2 separate regions of the Homo sapiens genome follow, and region 2 is linked to region 1. The links come from fine-mapping of genetic effects on gene expression. A gene starts in region 1. The other region holds a variant in brackets. All regions are shown on one strand. Distances are between the middles of the regions.

Region 1 (2,912 bases):
AGATTTCTAATGTTCTTGCTACAAAAAAAATGATAAGTTGGTGGGATGATGAATATGTTAATTGGCTGGGCTGAATTTTTCTGCATAGTATACATAGATCAAAACATCACGCTGGAGCCCATAAATATATACAATTATTATTTGTCAATTAAAAATAAATAATAAAAATACTTCATAAAAAAATCACATAATAATTTTAAAATGGAACTGAAAAAAAACAGTAATTCTGGGTCCTTTAGACACTTTGTAAACACTAGTCCTAGATCCTATGTAAATACTAGTCCTAGATCCTATGTAAATACTAGTCCTAGGAAGTATTTTCTTTCTTTCTTTCTTTCTTTTTTTCTTTTTTTTGAGACAGAGTCTTGCTCTGTTACCCAGGTTGGGTGCAGTGGTGCGATCTTGGCTCACTGCAACCTCCACCTCCCAGGTTCAAGTGATTCTCCTGCCTCAGCCTCCTGAGTAGATGGGATTACAGGCGCACACCACCACGCCCAGCTAATTTTTGTATTTTTTTGGTAGAGACGGGGGTTTTACCATGTTGGTCAGGCTTGTCTCGAACTCCTGACCTTGTGATCCGCCTGCCTCGGCCTCCCAAAGTGTGGGATTATATAGGCGTGAGCCACCACGCCCGACCCTAGGAAGTATTTTCTAAGTTCCAGTGCCATCAGAGCTTATAAAATTTTTAGAGGCAAATCAGTGAACTTAAGCAACCCACTCCCAACCAGTCTTTGTCTCTCTCCATATACACCCTGTTCCCAGAGATGGAGGGAGGAAAGAAGAAAGCTGCTTTTATCCTTTGCTGTGGCCTGGGACTGCTGGGGCTTTAAATCTTTGTATGTTTGTGTAGGAGGGTGAGGATGGGGACTTTCTGACTGCTATTCATCCACCTATTCATTCAATTTACTCATTCAACATATATTTATTAAGTAACCTACTGTGTGCTGGGCACTTGGTAAAGGGATATAATCTTATCTATCCTGCCAGTGGCTTCTCCCAGGTCTCTGAGGGTGTTTGGAGCTCATACCCTCTTCTCTTTAACAAGCGTGACAGTTAAAAGAGTAAGGGCTGGTATGGACAAAAGCAGGAAGGTGCCTGGGGTAGTAGTCATTGAGGTGAGTCATGGAGGAGCTGTATTTTCCTGAATTATTCAAGATCCATTTTGTTTCCCCAATTTGTTGAGGCTTTTTCTACACGTGAGATCTAAGAGGGTGTGAGGATGAGACTTAGGGGTGACTGGCAGACTGTCCTGAGCCCAAAACTGTACCTTGAGTACCAGTGATGATTCCAGACCACAGTGTTTCAACCCTCAACACAGAAGCAGAATCCTGGACTGGCTACCGAGGGGCCCCTGCCAGCTGCTGGCTCCAAAGTTGGTTTTGTCTGTGGGCTAGATCGGTGTAAGTTGGGGTCCAGGCTGCTCGCTCAGCAGCCTGATTGATCTCCAGGGCTCTTTTGTCTCCTCCTCCCCAGTGGAAGCCTCTCCCCCTCTTCCCCTCTCCCCCTCTCCCCCTCTCTCCCTCTTCCCCCTCTCCTTGTCTCCTTCTCTCCCCCTCTGCTTCTCAGGCTCTTCCGCTTTCCTCCTCTGCTTCTAATGAATTGACATCTCCAAGAGCCGCCACATCTCTGGTAGTTTTACAAAACTGTCCTTGCTCTTCCTGCGTTTGCCCAGTCAAGGGTATTTTTGCCTGAGGTCGGAATGATGCTGTTAGTCCTGGTGATATGATTGCATAGCAACACAGAGCAGCTCTGAGAGGGGAGGAGGAGGAGAAGAAGGAAGACAGGGAAGTGGGAGAGACAGAGGGAGAGTGTGCATACAGCAGCTGTCGGCATCCCTGTCTCAGGGACTTCTTTGCTGATTCACAGAGGCAGCCCAGCCCCGGCCTCCCAGCTTACAGCTGCCGCCTGCTTCTCAGACCTGACGGAATCAGAAGGTAGGCCACAGAAAAATTATTTCCAAGCCTTGGCCTTGTTCAGCTGGCTGAGGGGAAATGACTGAGGGAGGGGAAGCTCCAGAGGTACTGTGTGGCGGGCGAGGGGTGGGGGGAGAGAGGGAAAATGAGTGTGTGTGTGCGTGTGTGTGTGTGTGTGTGTGTGTGTGTACGCGTGCCTGCCTGCGGTCTGCTTGCATGTGCCTTTAGTGGAAAACTTGCATTTAAAAATGCCCACAATAAAGTAGTCACCATTTAGATTCATAAAGAAAAAAAAAAAGATGCCCAAGAATAGAAACTCAAGCCGATTTGAGCAACTAAGGTCTAAAAATGAATAAGAAGGAGGTACACAGTTTGCTTCTTTGAGAAAAGAGGGGCATTTATTTATTTTAGGTTCTCAATAGCATGCTTTTTGTCCAAGGGTATACTTCTTGGCAGGAGGGAAGCAAAGGTGTGTGGAAAGCCTTGGCTAACAAGGGAGGAGAGAGGAAACATGGGACCTTGGAGCAGGTTCCCTGAACAAATGAGTATTCTGGCCAGCAGACAGGACACAGGAGTTCTTTGCTGAAGTAAACCAGGCTCTGACCTAAGAGCCTGGAGCTGAAGGGCTCATCTCATCTCTGTATTTACTTCCTGGCTCTGTTGTTTTTCCTGTGACATTTTTCCCCCTTATCTTCTCCCCTGGTTTCCTTTCTACACCCTGTAATCAGGAGGCATCTTTCCACTCTTGAAAGCATAGCTTGGAGTGGTTTCAAATAGGGCTTGCTTCTCTTGGAGTCCAACACCCTATCACCTTCTGCTCTCACCACCTTTCCCAGCATCGGACCAAGTGCCCCAGCCTAGTAAGTGGGCCTGAGACTATATGGGTAGTTAATGTTTATCCTTCCTTTGGTAGGCAGGTCGAGCCAGGCCTCACAGGTGTTGGGTCTAAGCAGGTGGCAAGGCTGGGCTGGGGTGGGGTGGAGTGGGGTAGAGGAGAAC
Region 2 (2,912 bases), 270 kb before region 1:
TTAAACAGAGAATCAAAACAGAAATTACAAACTGTAAAAATAATCAGCAGGAAAATCGGAACCCATCAAAACCTATACTATGCAGCTAAAGTGGTACTCATAAGAAAGTTGCAGCATTACATTCACTTATTTATTCCAATATATTCAAATGTATTTCAACTGATAATACATGAATTTTTTTTTTTTTTTGGAGACAGGGTCTGGCTCTTTTGCCCAGGCTGGAGTGCAGTGGCATGATCTTGGCTCATTGCAACCTCCTCCTCCTGGGCTCAATCCATCCTCTTACCTCAGCCTCCCAAGTAGCTGGGACTACAAGCACAAGCCACCACGCCCAGCTAATTTTTGTATTTTTTTTTTGGAGGGACAGGTTTCACCATGTTGCCCAGGCTGGTCTTCAACTCCTGAACTCAAGTGATCCAACCATCTCAGCCTACCAAATTGCTGGGATTACAGACGTGAGTGACCACGACCAGCCAATACATGAATTATTTTCATTGACAATAAATGCACTAAACAGTCACCTCAAAAATACAGGTAAGTAACAAAATAGCATAACCAAAGAAAGTAGAAAGAAAGAATTAAGTATCTTTTTAAAAAAATCAATGACCCATTTCTCACTACTCCTCCCTCTTAAAATAAAACAGAAAACCTTGATGTAAAAACAATCAAGCATGGGAAGACTTTGAAAGGTGGAAAGGACAAGGTGGATTACCTAGAGACCTTAGGACCTAAAGAACACTACACTAATGAGCTGTCTACCATAAATCCCAGATGGGGCGCTGGAGAAGCCTGCAACCTGAAACTGCCAATAGGCCCAGACCCAAAAAAAGAGCCCCTTTCTGTTTCCTTTAGTTAAATGACTAGGAAAAGGGTGGCCTAGCAGAAGAGAAAATCTTTTTGATAATATCCACTCTACCCTAATCAAACATCAAAGGAAAATTTCCCCCTTCCCTGTGGTGTCAGCTGTGCCAAACAGAGATACCCATGTCTGCCTCCACATGGCAGCAGTTAGGCAGGGCAACTAGGCCCTGCGCCTCCCCCACAGGGGTGGTATCAGCAGGACCAAACAGGAGTGAACTTCCACCCTATCTCCCCAGTAGCAAAGAGGTGGAACCAGGCTATGAGAAGTGGTGCTAGATGGCCCTCCAGTTTCCCCACTGGGGTAGTATTAGTGGGGCCATCCCTACCTGACAGCAATGAGTTGGTGCAAGTCATCCCTCCATTCCGCATTCCCCCACCTGGAAGGGGTCTGGCAGTGAGGTGAACTTCCCTCCTTCCCCACAGTGCCAACAAGGTAGAACAAAACAGTGTGGCAGTATTCTGCTTCTCTCTAATCCCTGTGTCAGTCGACAAGGCCCGACAGGGAGCAGAACTTACAATCTCACCCAGCAGCAACAAAGTGATGTGAGTCAGTTCTATGCTTTTGCCAGGGAGGTATCTGCAAGGCTGAGTGGGGAACTAAACTTTCACTTCCATCCATTGGCAACAAGATGGGGCAAGGTGCTTCACTTTTGCCAGTGTCAGCAGGGTCCAGCAGAAAGCTGTATATCCACTCCAACACAGACCTGCACACCACATTTAACCCAGGGTGACTGCCTGCAAAAAAGGAAAAAGAAACAGGATGTTTTTGGTTGTTTTTTTTTTTTTTTG[A/ATTTT]GAGAGACGGAGTCTTGCTCTGTCGCCCAGGCAGGAGTAGAGTGGTGCAATCTCAGCTCACTGCAACCTCTGCCTTCCTGGTTCAAGTGATTCTCCTGCCTCAGTTTCCCAAGTAGCTGGGACTATAAGGCGTGCACCACCATGCCCAGCTAATTTTTGTATTTTTAGTAGGACGGGGTTTCACTAGATGTTGGCCAGGCTGGTCTCAAACTCCTGACCTCAGGTGATCTGCCCACCTCGGCCTCCCAAAGTGCTGGGATTACAGGCATGAGCCACCATGCCCAGCCAGAAATAAGATGTTTAGTCTCACAACACAATACCTAAAATGTCAAAAATACAATAGAAAATCACTTATACCAAGAATCAGAAAAATCTCAATATGAATGAGAAAATAAAATCCACAGACTCCAGTGCTGAGCTGACACAGATGTTGGAATGATCTGACAAGGATTTTAAAGCAATCATTATAAAAATGCTTCAACAAGCAATTTAAAGTATGCTTGAAACAAATGAAAAGAAGTCTCAGCAAAGAAACAGAACATATAAAAAAGAACCAAATGAAAATTTTAGAATTAAAAAATAAAACAATAAAAATTTTAAAACTCACTGGATGGGCTATAGCCGAATGAATATGACAGAAGAAAAAAATCAGTGAACTTGAATATAGAACAACAAAAATTACCCAATGTGAACAAGAGAGAAAACAGACTAAAAAGAAATGAACAGAGCCTCAGGGTCCTAAAGGACAATGAAGAAAAACAGAACATTCGTATCACTGGAGTTCCAGCAGAAAAATAGAAAGACTAGGGGGCTGAAAAAGTTCTGAAAAAATAATAGCTGAAAACTTCCCAAAGGTTAAAATGTTGACAGTAGAAGACTGTGGTAAATTACTTATGTATAATGCAATAATTAGAACAACCACTTAAATATCCATATAAAATATATATTCATAACCTATATAAATAAATGAAAATGGAATTATATGCACCAAACAACAGACTGCAAAATACATGAAGCAAAAACTAATAGATAGGAAAGTGCAAATAGATAAGTCCACAATTGTATTTAAAACTTGTAACATTTCTCTCTCAACAAATAACAGATCAAAATCAAAAAGGATATAGAAGGACTGAACACCACCATCAACCATCAAGGTCTAATTGACATTTACAGAATATTTCACCCACCAACAGCAGAGCAGATGTTCTTTTAAAGAGCACATGGAATCTTCACCAAAACAGATCATATCCTGGGTCATAAAA

Direction of the effects. Positions count from the first base shown, and alleles are read on the strand shown. Sizes are in standard deviations (SD) of each study's normalised expression.
In carriers of allele ATTTT in region 2, the expression in fetal neocortex of the gene that starts at base 1,574 in region 1 tends to be lower than with A alone (large effect, 1.3 SD a copy in Walker 2019).

The links. PIP is the estimated chance that this variant, and not a neighbour inherited with it, causes the effect. A credible set is the group of variants that fine-mapping cannot tell apart.
Region 2: its variant is the best candidate, but not a certain one, in a credible set for the expression of DRP2 in fetal neocortex (Walker 2019, PIP 0.68).

Annotation. Positions count from the first base shown.
Region 1 is chrX:101,218,213-101,221,124 of GRCh38, forward strand. DRP2 (dystrophin related protein 2) reads left to right here and starts at 1,574. Exons shown (of 24, transcript NM_001939.3): 1 at 1,574-1,934.
Region 2 is chrX:100,947,731-100,950,642 of GRCh38, forward strand. It overlaps a transcript of XKRX not described here. Among named protein-coding and RNA genes, the nearest start is that of XKRX, 20 kb to the left of the region's middle. The variant A/ATTTT (reference allele first, on the strand shown) is at 1,651.